Homo sapiens: one gene and its partner. The protein of the gene in region 2 interacts with the protein of the main gene of each other region in a biochemical or structural test. Each region holds a gene or a part of one and is shown on either strand. Other genes may lie near its edges.

What was found. The genes of interacting proteins can lie anywhere in the genome.
Region 1: the proteins of BAG2 (region 2) and LRRK1 form a complex in vitro, tested with the Homo sapiens proteins (2 studies listed by BioGRID and IntAct, with this or other methods).

The regions. Positions count from the first base shown.
Region 1 is NC_000015.10:100,922,336-100,929,360, reverse strand, and holds part of LRRK1 (leucine-rich repeat serine/threonine-protein kinase 1), read right to left. Parts: intron 4,851-7,025; 5' UTR 4,729-4,850; coding exon 4,632-4,728; intron 1-4,631.
Region 2 is NC_000006.12:57,167,725-57,175,350, reverse strand, and holds the start of BAG2 (BAG family molecular chaperone regulator 2), read right to left. Parts: upstream 3,026-7,626; 5' UTR 2,654-3,025; coding exon 2,541-2,653; intron 2,482-2,540; exon of another isoform or gene 1,890-2,481; intron 1,149-1,889; exon of another isoform or gene 970-1,148; coding exon of another isoform or gene 956-969; intron 1-955. Other genes in the region: E3 SUMO-protein ligase ZNF451, read right to left, coding at 6,882-6,928. UniProt on the Homo sapiens protein: Co-chaperone for HSP70 and HSC70 chaperone proteins. Acts as a nucleotide-exchange factor (NEF) promoting the release of ADP from the HSP70 and HSC70 proteins thereby triggering client/substrate protein release.

The sequences.
Region 1 (7,025 bases), on a different chromosome or scaffold from region 2:
CGGTGGTGGGCAGTGCTCTGAGAGGTGTGTGACTGTGGCAGGGCTTTCAGGACCGAAGCGACGGCCACTCACAGAGAGCTGGGGGGGCGAGCCACTGCCTGGGTGATGTCTGCTCAAGTTCCACCCACCCTCCGCAATCCAGAAGTCTTCCCAAGTATTCTCCACCTGAATTATGTGGAAGTTTCCTGACTTCTCTACTTTCCAGGACAGCTCTCCTTGGCTGGCGGGACTGGTTTTTCCACTCTGGCTGGTGTCAGACATACTCAGAAGAATGAACATCTAATGACATGTTTGTCAAAGTAATGCGCGTCCTGCAGCCCATGCCCAGCATCTCATTGACAGCTGCTCTGTCAGCTGGCAAACTCTACGCCCATCAAAGCTTTCCAACCATTCCTCTTGCACCGCAGGCGAGCTGACTGCTGCTGGTGCTAATGAGGTTGAGATTGTCACACACCTTCCTGGGACACAATTGTGTTGCACAAACACACAGCGGGCCGCACGGCAGGGCAGACACACACAGACCCCAGCCTCACACCAGCTGGGCAAAGCCCCCCACATCCAGGGGCTTTGAAAGGATTAACCATTGTAAACAAACATGAGCTGAGGTCACGCAAGTCACAACAGGTAGGGGGTGTGAAAAGGCGTGCCTAGTACACAAATAAAAAATTAAAAATACCATTACCCCAACACCCAAGAGTAGACACTCTTTTTTAAAGTGTGGGTCTTTTTCTAACGCACACGTGGAAGTATAATAAGAACGTCGTCGTTTTCAATCACGTTATCTTCCAAGGATTTTTAAAGCATGAGAAAGCTGTCCCTACATAATTTTGAGTGTCGTTAGTTTTCCTTCTGGCGGCCAACTTTTCTCAGCCGGAGCTGGAAATTAGGCCTGAACAGTGTTCCCTGAGTGAGGCTGGTGGATTTGGGGGGTGGGAGAGGGGAAACAGGGCTCCCTATCATCCCAGGAAGTCTAGGAGAAGGTGGGATGGGACAAATCCAGCTTAGGCTCTGGGGACATGTGCAGAGGGTGAGTCCTGCGGGGGGATCAGCTGCAGTCATAGTAAGTCAAGTATTCCGCATTTATTCCAGAAAGACTTCAAGGCAAAGAGGCCAGTGGAGGCAGATCTAACTTTGGATGTAAGCACAGGAGGTTTACCGTTTAGATTCTAAACACAAATCATCAGTACTTAAATAAACAATAATTTAAAAATAACTTGCAATATTATTCGTCTGGATGCAAAAGAAGGCAAAACAAAACAAAAAGCAATGTGTAGATATTGCAGGAAACATAAACAGCACCGATGAGCAAAGCACAGTGACTGCAATCCCAGCACACAGACGTGGCCACACGCCACCCTTTGAGCATTACCTGCTCCTTGGCTGTAGTCTTAGTGTACACATTTATTAATATATTCTGCGAAAATGAAATCCAACATGCAATGCGTTAAAATTGGGCTTTACAGAGGGAGCACTGTAGGCTTTAGTCCCTGGAATTAATAACTTCTGTTAGTGAGCTCCAGGGCTGGGGCTCACAGGCTCAGTTCTGCTGGTACCACCTGTGGGACCTTAAAACTCTGAGTATGGGTATAAATTAGTAGCTTCTCACCAGATTCCTTATGAGGATTTGGTTATTATTGTAATTCATTAACATGTAACATAATTTTCTTAATGCTAAACAGGGGACAGAACTTTCTGGGGTGTTTCAGGCTATCTTCCTCTCCTCTTCAACTCTGTGTTCTCTGTATTAGGTCACTGCACAAACACCTCCCTCATTCTCAGGGGTTCCCAGGGTGTCACTTCCCTGTCCTGTCCCTACTTCAAGCTCCTTGAACAGTACACAGTGAAGGCTGCTGAGGTCACGTCAGGGTCCTTGGCCCTTGTGTGTGTCCCTTGGGTTATACAGAACAGGGATAGCAGGGATTCCTGAGATCCCACTGGGGAAAGAGGCCATCAGAGCAGAGTCAGGAGAGGACACCTCCTAAGGAGCAGTGCCAAGCTCAGATGCAGGCCTTTAGGGAGAATCATGGGGGCTGGGGAGTGCCACACTTTGGCCTTTCGGAACACCTTAACATTTTCTGGTTATCTGTCCTGCCACGAGCTTGGAGGTGGGGATGGGTTTGTCCAAAGCCCATTGCGCCCCGGTCCCTGGGACCTGTAAGAATCAACGGGGGATCCCTGGGGACCTAGAAACGCAGGCTGTCTGTGCCCCAGGCCTCCTGAATGAGATTCTGCATTTCATCAGGATCCCCAGGGGACATGTGCACCTGATAATTTGAGAAGTGCTGCTCTATGGGACTCAAACCATTTAGATGGCCTGATTCTCAACTTTAGCTACACGTTAGAATCACTAGGGAACTTTGAAAAATTAGCCATGCTGGCCGGGCGCCGTGGCTCACACCTGTAATCCCACCCCTTTGGGAGGCTGAGGTGGGTGGATCACTTGAGGTCAGGAATTCTAGACCAGCCTGGCCAACATGGTGAAACTTCGTCTCTACTAAAAATACAAAAATTAGCTGGGCGTGGTGGCGCACGCCTGTAGTACCAGCTACTCAGGAGGCTGAGGCAGGAGAATCACTTGAACCTGGGAGGTGGAAGTTGCAGTGAGCTGAGGTCATGCTACTGCACTCCAGCCTGGGTGACAGAGCAAGACACTGTCTCAAAAAAAAAAAAAAAAAAAAAAGAAAAAAAGAAAAGAAAAAGAAAAGAAAGAAAGAAAATGAAAAAGAAAAAATTACCCATGCTTGTTCACTCCCCGCCCCCCTGCCCCAAGATGCTGCTCCAGTGGGTCCAGGTGGTGCCAGGGCCCTGCCGGTTTGAGCCACTACCCAGTGACTGTGTGGGCCGTGGTTGAGAAGCACTCCTTTAGATCACCAACTGTTGACCAGGAGGGGAGGGAGCAGCGCCTCCTGTGGGCTTTTTCAGATGACACAGTCACCTACCCTACAGGCCCCAAACAGACCCAAGGTCCCTGTCCCCACCCTCGTCCCTCAGGGCTGCGAAGAGGAGCAGCAGGAGGATAAGGGAGCCTCACGTGCACTGGAAAGGTGGAGGTGCTACCCCCAAATCGGGGACTGCGTTCTATCACCCACGCCACCTCGATCTCACACCAACAGAGCAAGGTCTTCCTACCACACAACTGAAAAAAGACACACGTCTAATACAAAGAAAAAGAAAATTTACAAAGATGCAAGTTGAACACTCTGGAAAGATTTAGTGCTGGGCAATGTCAAGAAGCAAATTCGTTTCCCATTTCATAATGTGATGGATGTGAAACGACACCTTCCAGAAACATCACCCTGGTCAGCTGCTGGACATTTCAGATGGAGTGAAAACACTCAAACAACTGAACAAAGTGTCTGCCAAGCCAGGTACAGTGGCCGATCGTTAGTTAACACGGTTAAGGGTACAAACGTGGGCCTCTCAGACCCAACCTGTTGACCCTTTCACCTCCCATAGTGTGGCCTAGCATTTAAGAATGAGTGTTGCAGCATTAAGACAGGGTTCAGATGGCAATTCTGTGATTTCTGAGTTGTTGACCTTGAACACGTTTCCAGGCTTCTCTTACCCTCATGTTCCTCAGCTATAAAACGGAAATAAAAGTACCATGTGCCAGGTTGTCGTGAGGATTTTATGACATTATTTCGTAAAGTTCTGAACTTTGTACATGTAGTGCCTGGTACATACTAAGGGATTGACAAATATTTGTAAACGATGATATCCTATTGGTCTTAAAGGTGGTGCAAGTGTAGCGGAAAATCTGGCAAAATACGTGCCAAGAGCTTAACGATGTTCAAGACCAATCATTCAACTTCTGTAAACCTGCATTACAGAAATAACCTTGAAACCAGGTATGAAGAGATGGGAAGGAAATGCTCTCAGTAGGAGTAAACAACTAGAAGCAACCCAAATGTCCCACAGGAGAATAAGGATTAGGTCAATAACTGCACATAGCACTCCCGCAGATAATGATGTTTGTTTTGGTTCGGAGTACTGCCCAATTTATGAATCATTTTTTGATCCAATTATTAAATCGTAAAAAAATAAAATAAAATAAATGAAATGATGTTTCACTTGATTGCGGGAGCCAGGTGGTGCCCTAAGCAAATGTCACTGATGGACGGTGAAGAGAAAAAAGCAACATGCAACATTACATACACCTTGTAAGTACAATAAGGTTAAAACAAAGTCCCCTAAACACAGAGAAGCAGAGACTAGGAGAGAACATGCCAAGATGCTCATTGTACTTGTGTTTGAGATAGCGGGATTCTGGATGATTCCTTTCCCTTCTTCCTTTTTTTTAAATTATTTTTTTCAATTTTTCCTTAATAAACATGTATTATTTTTATAATGAAAAAACAAAACTACATCCTTTTTCTTAAAAGTTCTTTAACCCAGCATGAAGTGATGTCCCAATTGTTAAGATCTGTGAGTCCACAATAAATTTTGTACACTGTTCCTCAATTTTTAGAATTTAAGAGTCCCAAGATATATTATATGATGAAAGAGCACCAAATGATGGACATTTGATTTCCACTGGTTGAGAACTCCTTGTTCTTACATAGCCTAGACACCCTGCAGGATGAGCATGGCAGGTCACACCCAGGCAGGCATAAGCACAGCCCTGTCCTTACCGTTAAGCGTCTCCATGGCACGTTCTGGACACACAGCTGACTCCTCCGGCCCCACACACCAGTACATGCTGGGGGGTCTTTGCGACATGCCAGCCATCAACCCTTGCAGCAGCCGATCTTCAAAGGCAGGTCCCGCTGTTGTCACTGCCACTGCCGCTGGCTGTGGGGTGCATTAAGGCGTGGACTCGTAGCCATGGCTGAGCAGAAAGCTTTCTTGCTCTGGTGGCGAAAAACAATCAAAACAGAAAGCCTTTATAATTCCTGTCCTCCTCCCCTGCAAATATTTGCATGGGTTCATTTAGTTTTCCCTCTGCAACATTCCTTTTTGTAGTCCATCTATCCAGCCAAACCCATCAGGTGTGGTCAGTGGGAAGGCACAGCTCCCCCCATCCCATCTTGATGCGGGGCTCAGGTATTGTCTACCTGAGAAGAGTCTCAAACAAACCCCAGACAATTGGAAAACACATACTGGTAACAGCTTCAATCATTGTTCAGTCAACGCACACCTACTGTCACATGCAAGGTAGCCAGGCTCTGTGTGAGGCTCAGTGGCACCAAGATGGCTCAAGGAGGCTCTTGCCCTCAGGGGCACACTCCAGTGGGGGTAGGGCAGACATAGTTAAGGTTAGTCACGATACAAGGCTCTCCTTTTGCCCGGGGCCAGTTCTTCTGGAAGCCAGAGGTGAGCACGTCATCCCAAGGGGGTGGTCAGGCAACAGTTCCAAAGACATGGAATTATTACTGGTTATGAAGTCAAGTTAGCATGAGCTTTAGCAGAAAGCTAAATGACGGAGGTTAGCAGACATGAGCCTCAAAAATTCTGCCCCTTTCCCAGGGGACATTTGGCAATGTCTGGAGACATTTTTGGTTGCCACAACTTGGCTGGGGGAGAGTGCTACAGGCCTCTAATGGGTAGAGGTCAATGATGCTGCTAAACATCCTACAATGTACAGGACTGCTATTTGCAACAAAGAATTATCTGGCCCCAAAAGTTCCAGGGTGGAGTTAGACTAATCTCTGAAACTAATGACTATGATAAACTGAGACCAAGTGCTGCTCTTCTATGCTGGGCCCCCACTGAGCTTAGAGTCCCCCCATGGGCATAAGTGCCCATCCTGGTATGGTGATTGAAGGACCAGAGGGAGGGTAAGACCCATGCCTAGCTCAGGCCTGACATGAGGTACTACCATAAGTAATGCATGTGCGCCTATCCTTGTTCTTATAGCATATCCTACATGTGATGAAGTACGAGGTAATTAGCACCTCTTGTCTGTGTTCTCTCAGATAGACAACTCTGAAATGGGGAGTGATAGTGCAGCCAAAAATATATTTTTTAAATCAAGGTTATATAAAAATAATGCCTAAGAGAATCTGTACAGGCAAAAGCATAGCGTGGACGTTAAAGGTGTGGACTGCCTGTGTCACATGTTCGCAGTGTGACTCCCAGCTGAAAGGTATGTGTGTCTCAGTTTTCACCTGTTAAAAATAGACATCCACCCTTATGCCCGGGCCTGCTAGTGGGGTTACTGTGTGAATTCAACCAAAGTGAAGTTTCTGCAGCCTCTCTCTACGACAGGGCTGGGGTGGTCATTACCTGTAGTACCAGCGCACAGACTTGGAGGCCAGCGGGTCTCCCACTTCCCTGCTAATTAATAAGATCAGAATATCAATGCTGGAGGGCAGATGCCAGCCTCACCAGCGGGTAGGTTCTAGAAGATGCCGTGAGCAGTAGGGGCACGAAGTAAGGTACAGGACAAGGCTGTGGGAATTTCTCACCTAAAAGCCTAGAACTCAGGCACCTGGCCCAGGTGGACTGGACTCGTCAAGGCAGGGAAAGGTGGAGCTAGAAAAGCCAGGCTCCAGCAGCCTTGTGCAAGCTGCACATGTTTCAGAGGCAAAAGGGATGGTCGACACAAACCACGTGTGGGAAACACCTGTGTTTGAAGTTGGGAAGCCTGAAAAGTCGAAGGAGGAAAGGAAAAACGATCAATCTGGGCAAAATTTAGGGGATGATGAAAGCCTTATAAATAGCAAAACCTGATTTGGAAAATCAACTTGTGACAGAGAGAGGAAGAGCCAGCAAGACAGAATCTGTTTTAAAATAAACGTTCCGATCACACATTCACATCCAGAAACTGAGAAGCACAGTTGCCATCTGCTTTCAGACACCTCTCCAAAACAGCTACCGCACATAACCAACAGCATTTCAAAAATCCAAACGCTAGACATTCTTCCTGAAAACAGAAGTGTCTTACCATACAATGTTTTTAAGTTCTAAAAAAAAAAAAATCTTAAAATTATTTCAGGCTAACCCTCACCCAGCACATTTTGTTCCCCTTTTCATTTTCAGTTTCCTTTTGAAAATCACTTTACCAGTGGAAGACTCTGCCCCTG
Region 2 (7,626 bases):
GAGCCAGGAACTATAACATAAGACTGTAACAAGGGTTATGGGAGTTATGAGCCAGGAAAACGTTGTATATATACAGAGAGAGAGAATCGTAATATCATAGTATTTTTTACAAATTACAATAATTGTTAAAAAGTAACAATAGTAAGCAAGATGGTTTGAGCCACTGAAGAATGCAAAACTCAGAGTCCATTTAGAACTGATCGTCAAAACGGAGAAAAGGGAATCACCTCTGTAGAAGGAAGAAATACAGAAGACAAAATGCAGTCCAAAAAAAAGGGCTACTGTATTGATAAATTCCATTAGAGATAAATGGAAATCCTTTAACAGTTTGTAAAACTGCTGCCAAACATTTTAAACATCATGTAGATCAGTTCATACTCCAGGTCATAAAGTATGAAATTTCTTCCACAATTGACAGGATCAGTGTGGTTAGGGAACATTAAGTGCACACTTCTAAGTACAAACTATAAGGTTTTATTCTACACAGTTACACTACTTTATTAGTCAACAAAATCAAACTATTAGAGCAAAATTACATATGAGTTTCATGTTTTCTTTTAAAAATCGATCTTCTACGCATGATTCTAGTTTTTAATAGTGTTCAGTGCCATTGCCCATGTGGTTTCAAAAAAAACTTTAATAGGATCTACATTAGCATTTTTCTCTATTTTTGCTTACCTTCGGAAATCCTTCCTTTTCAGCTAGTATTACTTTTTTAAAAAGAAGAAAAAAGGCCTACAAAAGTCCAGAATTACTAAAAAAAAGTCCTTGAAATGAACAGCCACATATTAATCACTTTTCTCCTCAGCTCAAATGTTAATTAAGCAAGTTGTAATTTAATCACTGATGTGCAATCAGAATTCATTTTACATTAATCAAACAGTAGAATATAATAATATTCAAAACCTGAGGCTTTCTTTTAAAGAGGAGCACTTCAGAGTGCTTTTGTACCTACCACATGTGAGGCATTAATTCAAGTTGGAGGACAATGACTCAGCTTGAAGGAAGGCGGAGTGGAGTAACAACCTCCCCATTCCTTTAGGAAAACTTTTCTTTCTGGCTAAGGGAGAGGAGAATGAAGTGGTTGAGAACATGCCCTCAACGTTCTGAAGACATGGAGAGATGTGTGTTACTTGTTATGTGGCTCCCTAAAAAGAAACATTACCAGTTAGAGGGACTTCAAGTAACTGAGGCCACCAATTTCTACTTTCGCTCTACTTTTTCTGGGAGTGGAACGGTCAGGTTTGCCAGTATTGTGAAAATCCATGAGGAAGCATTACTTCTCTCTTCCACTTGCCTCATTCTGAGTGGAACCCCAGAACCTGGTGTAGGGCTTAATAATCCAAGAAATTATTTTGAGTGGAGAATCTCTCACTCTCTGGCTCTTTTCTCCCAATAGTAACAATAATAATGCCTCACTTGTTAAGAGATACCGTGGTTATTGAAGTATTTTCTCAGCAAACAGATACTTCATGTTTGGGTGTATTAATGTAGGAAGATAAAGACACACATGCAGTGTTTCCTAAACTTTTTGGCTCACATGCTTCTTTGCTCATGCACAACCTAGACAAAACTATGTAACCAACTCCTGTGTACAGTTTCACGGAATTGCAGGTGCCTAACAAGATTTTCTTTTAACTACACCTGCTCACAAAATTTACACAGTAACTTGAGACAAACGTTCACAGGAAGTAGATAAAACTTTTCAATACACCGTTAAAGTCTTTCCAAAAATCTATTAACATTAAATTGTTTAGAAATTCTATACAAGTCTACTACTGTATTACCAAATAAATTCTTAAGCAAGAAAAGGGGAAAACTATCTTTTCATGCTTTCAGGCCAGTAACTAGCACTTAGTCTTCTATGTAGGGAGGTGCCCAATAAATACCGAGAGACGAACGGAACCGCTGAATCCCGTCCGCGAGGTTAGGGGAGAAACAGAAGCGGCAACGTCTCTGCTGCACGAAGCACCCGGTAACTTACTGCCTACCCCTCACTCCTGTCTAATCTTTGCTCTCAATGGATTGCTGGGTTGGTTTTGTTTTATTCATTTTTGTTCTGAAGCAAGGAAACTTAACTTCACGTGGAGGGCCACTGTAAACTGCTGCCTCCCTTAAAAAATGCATAACGAGAAGAGTAAGTTAAAACGTTTGGGGCCACACAGAAGGTTCTAGAAGTTCTGCAGACCCAAGCTGCCACAGTCCTTAATCGCATGGAATCTCACTGTAACTTTTATCTCCTCTGATTTTTTTCCGCTCCCTAACACCTAGGTAAATTAATCAAAGTGTGGCCACCGATAACGCCCTCACAGGTTTAGCTTAAATCGAATGCGTTTTCTCTCGGACTAGGGGAGATAATCCAAGAAACAAACAAAACTACACCACGTCCATCCACAACAAATCTCAACAAGCAACTTCGGTTGCCGCAGCCTCACTGTGCCCCAGGCCCCGGCCCGCCACACGCGGCCTCCGTCCGCTAACCGCCCGCGAACCGCCCGCGCGGCGAGCAGAACGCCCGAGACCGCCCGCCCGGAGCTCACCTGAGCTCCAGCTGGTCCAGGCTCTCCAGCAGGCGGCTGGAGCGGTCAGCCATGGAGGAGGAGCGGCAGAAGCGCCCCTCGTTGGCTTTAGCGTTGATCTTCGCCTGAGCCATCTAAGCCTCCGACGCGGGGTAGCCAAGAGGTCACCGGCCCCTCCGGCGGCAGCGAGTGGAGCGCTCCTTGGGCTGCAGGCGTCGCCGTCACCACGCGGGCGCCCGCCCTCCCTCTGACGCCCGCGGGGGCAACCCGGGAGGACTCGCCGACACCGCGGCTGCAGCGTAGCCAAAGAAGGGCAGGCGCGGCGCCCGCGGGGCTCGGGGACGCCGGGCCTGGGAGGGGGCTGCAGCGGCTGGAGTTAGAGGTTCGCGAGCCACACGGGCTCGAGGATGGGCCGACAGGGGCTCGGGCCTGGGGAGCGCAAGTCTCTGAGGCACGGGAGGGGCGGACGCAGAGACCGAGCGCCTAATGTGGCTAGCGGATCGTCTGCTCCCCGGACCCAGGAACTACCCGAAGCCCGCGCGGACCCACAGACCACCCCCAGCTCCGCCCCGCGAGGCCCCGCCTCTTCATGCAACCTAAAAGTAACCAACTCCCCCCACGCGAAGGTTCCTATCGGTCGACGGGCTGTGGGTGTATTGCTCAGTGACGGCTTCGTTTAGTTTCTCCCAGCACCCATAATTCAAAGCAAGAACAACGACATTATGGGGAGAAAACGTCCTTTTGTGAAACAGAAGGCAGTAAGTACAGCTCGTAGGCAGCCCACACTCACCTGACCTTCCTGTTACCACTTTATACTGAGATGAGAGTAATGAAAGCCCGGACAACACTGAAGCTATGAAGTAAAAAAGAAAAAGCTACTCCATCTTTCCCTGTCTAGCTAGATGTGGGAAGCAAAGTGAATTTACTTCATTTTTACCATTCTAATTTTCTTTTGTTTTTGAGATGGGGTCTAACTGTCGCCCACGTTGGAGTGTAGTGGCGCGATCACGACTTACTGCAGCCTCGACCTCCCGGGTTCAAGCGGTCCTCCCACCTCAGCCTCCCAAAGTGCTGGGATTACAGATGTGAACCACCACGCCTGGCTTAATGAAGGGGTTTTAAATTTTTGCTATTAAAATTATTCCTGTTGAGCGAGCCGAGATCTCGCCACTGCACTCCAGCCTGGGCGATAGAGCGAGACCTTGTCTCAAAAAAATAAATAAATAAATAAATATTCTGAGTGAAATAATTGGCATTAAAAAGTCCTCAACTTTTAAAAATCCTGTTAACAAAAAAGATGCAGTAGGCCTCTAGGTCAGGCACCAGCTGTCGGTAAAAGACGGAATAGAGCTGAGGATACAAAGATTAGTCTACTTAAAAAGTTAGGCTTTAGTCCCCTCTCCTGATAGCTCTATGCCTCTCATTGCAAGGATGACAATGTACAGGGCACAGAAAATGATAGATAATAATAGTTTAAAGCTGAGCCACCACCTTTAATCAGAGATCAAAGCCATTTAAATACTTGAACAGAGTTGAAGCCCTTAAGGCTGGATCCCAATTCCCTCTGAACTCATTTTAAATCCTAATTAACTCTTGGGGTAGGGGATTATTTGACCTTATTAAAAATAACTTTATCATGACACAAACGAAAACAAAACACATTTTGTGAGTGGTTTGAAAGTCTATCAAGTGACTTTAGAATCATCCTGAACTCTTTTTCTCTCTTATCCTAGATCCACACCATTAGTAAACCCCATCAATTTTGCCTTCAGAATATATCCAGATTCTTCCCAATTCTACCGCCACCATTCTGGTTCAAGCTACCTGGTGAGTTTGCACCTGGAATACTACAATACCTTCCTCTCTGGTCTCCCTGCTTCTACTCTTGCCTCTCATGTACATGTTATCTCAGTGCAGCAACTACAGCAATCCTAAATAAGGCAGATCATACCATTTATTCTCAGAAACCTTCACTGGCTCCTTACCTCAAAGTAAAAGCCCAGGTCATTAGAAAAACCTCAGTAAGTTCATTTCCTATTACTCTCCTAGCTCATCCTGTCAGCCATACTAGTCTTCTTGCTTTTCCTTGAATATACTAAGCTCCTGTCTGGACCTTAACCTCCTCCACCTGGAACTCTCTTCCCGATATGTATTTTCATCCTCATTCCCTCACCTTCTTCAGGTCTTTGCTCAAGTTTACCTATCAGTGAGATCTTTTCTGACAACCCTATTAAAAATAGCAAGCCTCCCCCCAACTCCCTGTCCCTGCACTATTTATTCCCTTCCCTTCTTTATTTTCCGTCGTTACACGTATCACCATCAGATATGCAGTTTTATTGCCTTGCTTACTAACATTGTACAATCCCCTCCTCTCCACCAATATGTGCTCCACAGAGGGGTAAGGGCTTTGTTTTGCTTACTGGTATATTCCAAGTGCTTAGAACAGTTGCTGGCACATGGTGGGTACTCAATATTTTGTGATTGAATGAATTAATGAGTGAATGATGTAATGAAAAGATAAGCATCTTTGTCAATGTTAGAAACATTTACTTCTGACGATAATCCATATAGCTTTCTCTGATGTTACACAGCGATTACATCTCCTTGTGTCTAAATTAAAGTCAAAGTATGAATTTTAAGATGATTTTTAATTATTTAACAAGTAGAAATACGATCAGTGACAATTATCAATTAAAACATTAAACAACCCAGTTACCTTTTCTTAACAGTCATGATGAAATATCCCTTTCCTGTCTTATCAGAAGCCTTAATTATTCTCTACCACACACACCACAAAAGCTTCTTAATAGAGCATCAGTGTCCATCACACCTTTGTGTAGAATCTCTGGCAACAAGGTGCTGTCTCCTCTTGCCCTGCCCCCACATCTGCTTAACTACTCTTCTTTCTGGAATGCCTCTTTTGCTCCCATTTTGTGAGCTCCTGCAGATGTGTTTAAGGTCCAGCTCAGTGACTACCTCCTAGAGCCTTGCTTGACCACTTAAACATACAAACTAAAAGCACAATGTGGTCATTTCGGAAAGATGATTGATAAATTCTCAAGCCACAATGTCTAGTTTTTAAAAAATGCAAGCAGGGAGGAACAGAAGTGACATATCAAGAAATTAAAAACACAAATTATAGATTGAAAAGACTATAGTAATAAAAAAATTCAATTTCACACTAAAATATTTAGTGTTACAGAGAAGGAACCAAATTCTAGCCTTTATATTTTGTCTTAAATATAAAGAAAAGCTTTATATTTATAGAAATGTTTTTAAGTTTGGTAAATAATTACTACTAAAAATTTTTAGAGATAAGACATTTCTGGTTAAATAACATGAAGCATATACACAAAGATAATATGACAAGCCCTTCTTAGTCTTCTACTTATGTCGTATTTTTTATTACTCACAATGGGGCCTCAATATTTAAGAATTAAATATGTAATACCAAATGAAGGAAACTGACAATTCAGTGAATAACTAAACTGAAAACACTTCACATGAAATAAAAATTTAAAGAGTTAAGGAAGATTATTCCTGAGTAGGCTTTCAACATTATTTCTTGAAGAATATTATGTTTACACCAATATATAAAAAAGGACTGTTATGAAAAATAATTTTATGCAAATATTCTGACACCATTCCCTTTAACCAGGAGACCATACAAGTCACATAAAAGTCTAAGCAGGTAAAAGGAATGGAAATTGTTTCATTTAAATTATTTCTTAAAAATTAAGGTGTATTTTTTATTTTAGCAATGTGCTGCTCTAATTAAAGCAATAATTTACATATGCATGGCACCCACAAAGAACATTGCTGATAAAATTTTAAATGTTTCCATGATCAGTTTCCATTACCCTCTTCTAATAAACATAAACAAAGATCTCAAAGGTATTATATAATAGTGCCACATGAGAAGTAGAATTTATGGAAAACTTGACCTATGTCACCTTTTTTATATTCATTTTCACTGCTAAAAAAATAAACTAGCATCATTTGTACAGTACAAATAAAATTAAAGAACTAATGCTATTTGGGAAACAACTGTCAAGAGCTTTCCTTTTTTTTAATCCTTTAAATCTAAATATATAAATTCAAAGTTAACTGGGAAACTGTTACACCTATATTAGAATACATAATTTATATTTGCATGAACATGTATTCTATTTCTTCTGTACATGTTTGCACATTAGCACAAAAATACAAAACAAAGATCAGATTTTGAACATATGAAAGCAAAAACATGTTTTCAAATACATTTGTAATAGTGGATTTCTGGTCTCCTTTAGAAAACAAACTCAAGAATTCGTTATCTCAGTCTCTTCAAGGCCACTTGATGTTGTGTGGTAATATCTTTAATTACATTTCCTCAAGACTTCTTCTAATAGCTTCTTCTAATTCCACATCTGCATTAAAAAACATAGAATTTTAACACTTAGGGCAGAAAACTCAACATGTGCTGTATTTATTTAAGTTTCATCGACTGTATTCTTTTCAAGAAGGAAAGTAAAATCAAAATGGAAAAACACAGGATAACTTGGCAGTTTCTCTACTAAAAAATTGAGTATTTTGAAATATGAAAATCTAGACATGATCTTGAATTGAATTTTATATATGAACTTAGAACTTGCAAGTTAATTCCACTTAGGAATGTAGAAAGTCAACAAACTTTTAAAATCACTGACAGGTAATCATTTGTTTCAACATTTAAAAAAAAATCTGTATCACTTATTTGCTAAAAGACTTGAGGTGATACATATAAGACTTTAAACAGAAAGGCAACTCCATGAAATGACAAAATGTCACAGGCCATTAAAAATTTAGTTTAATTTTTAATTATACCTCAATAAAGCTGGGGAAAAATTAGCTTAAAGCATCCTAGCATCTAAGGTAGTGAAACTCATAGCCACATAAATGTCATCTGAGAAGCATATAATATATGCTGTATGCAGATGTATGTAAACTCATTTGACAAATATTTATTGAATGCCCATTATATACCAGGAACAGCAATGTAATAGTGAACAAGACAGACGTTATTGGGTTCACAATAGTTGAGTTCCATCTCCTCCTTGGGAATGATGCTAAAATCCAGGAGGGTGAA